2 linked regions of the Homo sapiens genome follow. The protein of the gene in region 1 interacts with the protein of each later gene in a biochemical or structural test. Each region holds a gene or a part of one and is shown on either strand. Other genes may lie near its edges.

The links.
Region 2: the proteins of CUX1 (region 1) and SATB1 form a complex in vitro, tested with the Homo sapiens proteins (one study listed by BioGRID).

The regions. Positions count from the first base shown.
Region 1 is NC_000007.14:102,191,561-102,195,484, reverse strand, and holds part of CUX1 (Homeobox protein cut-like 1), read right to left. Parts: intron 1,644-3,924; coding exon 1,595-1,643; intron 1,410-1,594; exon of another isoform or gene 1,280-1,409; intron 1-1,279. UniProt on the Homo sapiens protein: May be involved in intra-Golgi retrograde transport.
Region 2 is NC_000003.12:18,397,495-18,401,418, forward strand, and holds part of SATB1 (DNA-binding protein SATB1), read right to left. Parts: intron 1-3,924. UniProt on the Homo sapiens protein: Crucial silencing factor contributing to the initiation of X inactivation mediated by Xist RNA that occurs during embryogenesis and in lymphoma.

The sequences.
Region 1 (3,924 bases):
CTCACTGCGGGGCCGGCCACTCACCCGCTCCCGGGGCCACCAGGCCTGGAGCCCTGCCTCCCTCCATCTGTCCGCGTTCCCACCCAGCTCTCGATCTGATTAGGAAGTGGGCTGCGGACAGCTGATTTCCCCCCAAGTCGTTTAACACACGTGGAAAACAAGTTCCCTTTAGAAAGAATGGATTCTAGTTGAAGTCATTTTCCTTCTTAGACTTCCACAGCTCCTAAAAAAATTAATTATTCTCTCATCTGTTCTCAAACTCAAGCGACCTGAGCCCGTGCCTCATTTGGCCATAAGACTGGCTGCCAAGCCACAAACGTCTGTCCGAACGTTACTGTAAAGGGAACTTTTCTTTTTTTTTTTTTTTTGCCAGCCACAAAGATGTTGGCTGTCTTCTGGGCATCAGGAGTCAGATTCCACTTAGGATGTCAATTTTATTTGATTTGATTTTTTAATTTTTTGAGATGGAGTCTCACTCTGTCGCCCAGGCTGGAGTGCAGTGGCATGATCTTGGCTCACTGTACCCTCTGGCTCCTGGGTTCAAGTGATTCTCCTTCCTCAGCCTCCCAAGTAGCTGGGATTACAGACGTGCGCCACCACGCTCAGCTAATTTTTTATATTTTTGGCAGAGATAGGGTTTCACCATATTGGCCAGGCTGGTCTCAAATGCCTGACCTCAAGTGATCCACCTACCTCAGCCTCCCAAAGTGCTGGGATTACAGGAGTGAGCCACCATGCTTGGTCTGGGATGTCAATTTTAATTGGCCACCAGATGACCCTGGGCCACAGTCATCCTTCCCTTGTACCTTCTCTACTGAGGCAGCATGTAACTAAAGTTCCTAAACCAATCCATTTTTGGCTGCTCTTTAATGCAATTAAAAAAAAAATAGTCAGTCTCAATCTGTTGTCCAGGCTGGAGTGCAGTGGTGCGATCATAGCTCACTATAGCCTTGAACTACTGGGCTCAAGCGATCTTCCTGCCTCAGCCTCCCAAGTAGCTGGGACCACGGGTATATGTCACAGTACTTGGCTATTTTTTTTTTTTTTAATAGCAACATGGTCTTGCTATATTGCCCAGGCTGGTCTCAAATTCCTGGCCTCAAAGCGATCCTCCTGTCTTGGCCTCCCAAAGTGCTGGGATTACAGGCATGAGCTACTGAGCCTGGCCTTCTTAAACACAATCTGAAATTGTTTTTTATTTATGTTCTTAGTACCTGCTGAAGTGAAATCACAATTTCACTTCAGTTACCAGTTTGGAAAACACTAGCTTTTCTCTTTTTGCCTCTTTTTGTTAAAGATAATTTGCTTTTTGGTAGTGCCCATCTCCTATCAGTCAGGGATGAAGCAATCCCTTGTTCATCCCCAGCTTGGCTTTTGATCTATGCCTGGTTCATGCCTTGGACACATGGAAAAAAAGGAGACAAAAAAAAAAAGATAATTTGCTTCAACTTGGTTAAATGTTCTTGAAGTATGACTCATCGGCTGTAAGTGAGAGGTCTCGTAGAAACAGTGGATCATGGGATATGCCGGAGGGACCAGTGGTAACCAGCAGCGGGGCTGATGCTAGTGCTGACCATTGAGGTGAGACACGTACCTGTGTCCCAGCGCCCTCGGACGGTGCAAACTCCATGGACTTCAGAATGCTGCAAGAGCACAACAGAGGGGTTATTTTATTTATTTTTTGAGACAGAGTCTCGTTCTGTCACCCAGGCTAGAGTGCAGTGGCGCGATATTGGCTCACTGCAACCTCTGCCCAGGTTCAAGCGATTCTCCTACCTCAGCCTCCCGAGTAGCTGGGATTACAGGCATGTGCCATCATGCCCAGCTAATTTTTGTATTTCTAGTAGAGACGGGGTTTCACCACGTTGGCCAGGCTAGTCTCGAACTCCTGACCTCAAGTGATCCACCCGCCTCAGCCTCCCAAAGTGTTGGTATTACAGGCATGAGCCACCAGAGTGATTATTTTCTACTTATACCTTTGACAACAGCCACATTAATAAGCATTAACATTACAATTTCCTGCTCTCCAGGAACCGAAGAACTGTCAACTTTAACAACTTCCCTGGCAGTAATAGAATCTGATAATGTCTCTAGAATAACTATTCAACTAGCAGTTGGCTGGCAAAAGTTTCTTGCCTAGCATGTAAATCATTCCATATGGAATCACACCAGGTCTGTTCAGAGTATAATTTTAAAGTTTAATACAGACATAACATTGTTGCAAGTGGAATGTATTTGTAAAGCTTAAAGGGAAGGAAAAAGTTGTAAGGAGAAGCCAGAGAGAGGGGAACCCACCAGGGCGGCCACTGCCCACACCTCACTCCTAACTGGCACCTACCTGGGGACCAGGGGACATAGGCAAAGAGCAACCTCCTAGACTTGGATGACTCAGAAGCCAGGTGGGCAGACCTTCTCTGCAGCCCCAGGTTGGGGAAGGAGTGCAATGACAAAGATGTGGCAAGAGAAGGTGACTTCTCCCTCCCTTGTTCTCAATGGCACTGAAAAGGGCCGCACCCTGATCACTACGGTCTCTGGGCTGTCTCAGTGAGTCCAGGTCCCCAGGATTATTACTGTTTCTTGAGTTCCTTTTGCTGTGGATGTCCCTTTTTTGCTGAGTTTACCAGGGAGAAGAGGGGAAGTGAGGCTATGTGGCTTTGAAGGAGCTGCAAGTGTTTCTTTGAAATACCAAGGATGGAAGAGAGAGACCCAGAGCAGGCTGGCTGGACCGTGAGATTTACGACTCGCAGGTGCAGAGTCAACCGGACCTTCGCCATGTTCCTGCAGCCACAATTTCGGCCTCTGTCCCCCTAGTGTGAGCCACCACACCTGGATAATTTATTTTTAGTAGAGACGGTTTTGGCCAAGCTGGTTTCCTGACCTCAGGTGATCTGTCGGCCTCCCAAAGTGCTGGGATTACAGATGTGAGCCACTGCGCCCAGCTGAAAGGGGTTTCTTAAGATGGAATCCTGTCCTTCGTTTCCTATTTTCTTTAGGATTATGTAATAAAAGACCACGTGGCTCTTTATCTATTCTACAGATCTTTACCAGCAGCCTGCTATCCGCTTGTTGCCGTGGGGAATCAGAACCACTCCTGGTCCGTACTCCAGGAAATTTACAGGCCATTACAGGTAATAGGCAAGACTCCAAGTGGTCCATTAAGACAGAACTTGTGAGGACCCCAGCAGGAGGGATCTTGATGGATTGGAGACCACGTCTCAGTGTCATGATGAACAAGCATTGGAGAAGGGCCCTGAAGGGACAGGGTGTCTTGTGCTGCAGTGCATGAGGATCTGAGGTCAGCATCCCCTGTTGCGTGGGGGTGAGGAAGTGGAAATGGGACGATGCTGAGAAGGGGACGCGGGCAAGAGCTCAAGAGCACAGCTGGTTCACCAGGAAGTGGAAAACTAGGAGCGCATTTGGGCAAAGAAGCCACCTGAGTGGGGCTTCCAGATGTGCACATGGTGGTGGGGCCTGTCATGTGCGGACGCAACAGAAAGAGTTAGCAGAAATGCAGTGACAAGCGGGGCTGGTGTGGCAGCCCTTCAGTGGGGGTAGGGGCAGCCTGTGGTCCGGCAGGCTGTGGATGAGAGGGAGTAGAACGGTATGTGTTGCAGGCTGGAGCCTGGAAGCCTCAGCTCCCAGGGGATGAAGTGAACGTGGGGGTTGGGGGAGAAGAGGAGGAGGAGGAGGAGCAAGAGGAAGAAGAAGAGGAAGAGGAAGAAAGAAGAAGAGGAGGAGGAAGAAAGAAGAAGAGAGGAAGAAAGAAGAAGACAACGAAGACGACAATGAAGACGACGACTAACTCCCAGGGTGAGGCTGGGCAAAGGCCTTCGCAGCAGTTTCTCTGGCTCAAAATTAAAAGGCCCAATTTCTTTTTCTTTTTGGAAGAGGGAAGAAGAGGGAAAGGAAGGAAAGAATGGGATA
Region 2 (3,924 bases), on another chromosome or scaffold:
CTGAGACCAGTATAAAGCTATCAAACCCACAGACTTTGCTCTAGCATTCATTGAATCTCCATCAATGCCATCTATTACTAGGCTGTCAAACTCACTGGTCCCAATAAATCCAAATACATGAAGATGACTTTATAATTGTGACTCATAAATATACGAGACTTCGCGATTTTTTGACTGGACTCTACATCTTTTCTACTCAAAGTATAGACCAGGGACCAGCAATATGGGCATCACTTGGAAGCTTGTTAGAAATGCAGAATCTTGGGCCCTACCCCAGACCAGTGCACTTAGCAGCTGAATTTTACCAAGATCCCAGGGGATTCACATGTATATTAAAATTTGAGAAACAGAACTTGCACTTTCCACTCTATTATTTGGATTTAAAGTGGACGCGCATTAACACTGATCAAAGGTTAACTGACCGTATTTGAGAAGAAACAAACTATTCACAGAGATCCTCTATCAAGAGAAAAACATTCTGCAATCTTATTACTGGCTTCATCAATAGTAAAGCTTAAGTTTTGAATTTCAAACCGATCATAAAAATTTTAAATTTATACATTTCATGCTTCTAAATTTCTCAAGGATACCACAAAAAGATGACCTATCGTGACTTATCTTTATCCTGCTTTTAATAAATGCCCGGAAAACTGTCAGCCCTTTAACATACAAAAATGAAGAAAAACATGATTTTAATGAATCACTAGGAGGGTTTCTTTTTTTAAATCATTTTCAATCTTCCCAGCAAATTTTGGTTACGGTAATTTCAATGACTAAATTCATGGTCCATATTAACCTGTTACCCATATTCTCTAGTAACAGCTAACTTAATTTCCTACCGAGTCTTAGGAGTAAGATTTTGTAGCACCAATCTATCCCTCACCCCTATGTGCAGAAACATGAGAACTCACATTTCAGACATCAGTTGGTCTATGGTGAAATAATTTATAGAAGGCAGCATTGTTCAGGAGGCAGTGAACAACCAGAAAAGCCAGTTTGGGGACAAAAGTATTTTTATATAATTATCTTCTTTAAGTTACCTCTAATGTAAAGCTCTTTCAGTTATTATTCATTCTCCTGACATCCACTATCAGTGTTAATTCTGTAGCATGCACACATTTCTGGAATATGTAAATTTGGGGGATCTCTAAAGAACTTCCAGTGAAGGATAAGCTGGAGTCGCATTATTTATGTAAAACACAGCTATCTTTCCTAAGAGGCACTGTGATATCTTTTTTTTTGACACTCTCTATAGTCATTTTCACATTTTATATCTCTAAAAAGACATTCTTAATGTGTTCATGATGCTCTGCCATTAATCCAATAGCTTGCAATTTCACTAAGAGCCTCCCACAGTCCACAGTGTAAAAAGACACTTAGCAAAGTTGCCAAAACCAGAGCCAGAAGATTACCTGATCTGTCAGCTTCAATCTCACTTACTCTCTTGTAATAAGGGATCAATAAAGTCAGACACTAATAAAAACTATTGAGATCGCTGATGGATAATGGTGATTCTTCTGCAAATGGATGACAGTTGATGTTCTTCCACTCTGGTCCAATTTTTAAAAAAATTATTACTCTTTATCTAGACATTCTGGCAGTTCCTTAAATGTTAATAATACACATGAGTTCTAGATGTGGTTTATGTCTTACTTTTTAGAAGTGTATGGAATATCCAAATTTTGCCGAGGTTTTTGACAAACATCCAGTCTACTCCAGTTTGCCAACAGTTCTATATATGAAATTTGCTCTTTGCTGCACACCTACTATATGCCTGGCTGGTAGTAAGGATGCAAAGATGGCAGACAGCCTCTGCCTACAAAGATGAGGCACCTGTCATCCAAAGATGGCGGACAGCCTCTGCCTACAAGAAGTTTACTATCTATTAAGAACACAGATATGTAAATAGATCATCTCAATTTAATGTGATTTGGTATATCAACAGTGGAAAATGTATAGGGGACGACGGAAGGAAGAATCATCCATGGTGTGTGTGAAAAAATGTCTGAAATAGTTTTATAAAACTAGAACCTATATGTAATAGTGCTATACAGTTTATTATTATTCGTACATGGAAAATAATATCCATATGTGCATCATTGTCAAAGCTTCCCCCTACCCTACTTAACCCTAAATTGGTAGGTTCTGGGCTTAAGTGCTTTTCTGTCACATGGTGTATGCTTAGGAAACTCTGATTAATGTAAATAATAGCCTAAGCAAGACTTAAATCAAAAGGCTAATCCGTAACTTATAATGCATGACAAAGCAACTTTTTGGATTCCCTATCTTTTTGTGCTTTTGGGTGACTGGGAAATATTTCCTAATTCAGGTAACTTGGAGTCATGTCTATTTTTATTGGACAATATGCAATAATCTGTCCAATTAGATTGCTCCTATAGCCACTTCATGAGGTGTATGTGTGTGGGCGTGGGCGTGTGTGTGTGTTTCAGGTGGTAAAATTCCTACTAAAGGCTTAGGCATAGCATTGGAGTAGACCAGCCAGCCGGTTTCAATGGCAGGAAAGAGACTGCAGAATTTTGTGGTGCACATGGCATTTGAAAAATCATATACAGTAGTGTAATCTTAAATTTAGAATATCAGGAAAAAAACACGTAATGTTTTGATAACACAAATAAAAAAGTCATGATTGGTAAAATTTTCCTAGGTGGTGGGATGTACAGATAGTAGGCCAAGTTCCATGTTAGAAAGGCTTGGGATTCTTGTGTCACTTAAAAGGAGGTACTGGTTTAAAAAGATTGCACTAAGCTGTGAGTTCACGTAGGTCTGGGGCACCATATTATTTTCTAGCTCAATGCCTGGCATGCATTAATATAAACACTAAATGTTCATCTGACAAAACAGAATAGAAATAAACATATATTCAAGTGAGGATGTGTCACACACTGGTAGTATGACCTTGGGTCAAATAGTTGACCATTCCATCACAATTTCCTATGCTAAATGGGAATGATAATAGCATACACCTCATGGAGTTGTTCTGAGAATCCATCAATTCAGGCATTTTTAAAATTCATTTAGCATATACTTAAATTCTACTATGTGCCAAGCACTGGGCAAGTCACTAGGAAAATAATGACTTGAAGAGACATATTATCTGCCCTTGGACAGGAAATAATAGATGTGATACAATTAGCACAGAGCCTGTAACATATTACATATAGACTGAAGAGATATTAATTACTATGACAATCCTTTGCCTCCTCCTCATCACTGGGCTTTCATTATATGATCACATTTCATATCAGGTGACTATGTTTTGAGTATCAGATAAAATTTTCAAATGATATACAGTATTTTGAGTCTTTTTAATGTAGAATGAAGTATACTGATTAAATTATTAAGTTACAAGTTGGTACAAGGAATAGTAAAGGAAAACACCACGGGGAAATATTTCTTTCCTTCTCATACTCCAATTTGGTGGTGTTTTCTGAAGCTGGCCTATATCTGGTAGAAAGCATCAAGAAGGCACACCACTCCTCTGGCTTGGATGCACGGCCCATGCCCTCTCCCATCTCTAGCTAACAGCTGCTCATCCTTCAGGATACAGCCTGGGCATCCTTGCTTCCATGAGGCCTTTCCTAACTTCCCAAACCTCCTGCAGCAGAGCACTCATCCTGCTGTTTATTTTGCACTGGACTGTGGGCCTTAGGTCTCATCTGAATATATCCTGGACTCATCAGAGGGCTGGACACAGACTAGGTGATCAATAAAAAGGGTCACTGAAACAAGCCACCAGAAATCCTCTTCCCCTTTTTTCCCCTTAAAGGTCAAACATAATAGCAGCTTAACTATGACACGAATCTTTCAAATCCATCGCTTTGGCTGTCGTGATAGAAATCATAGTTTCAAGAACCTTTGTTCATTAATTTGCAAGAGATCCCTTCCCAGGTTTTTCAAAATACA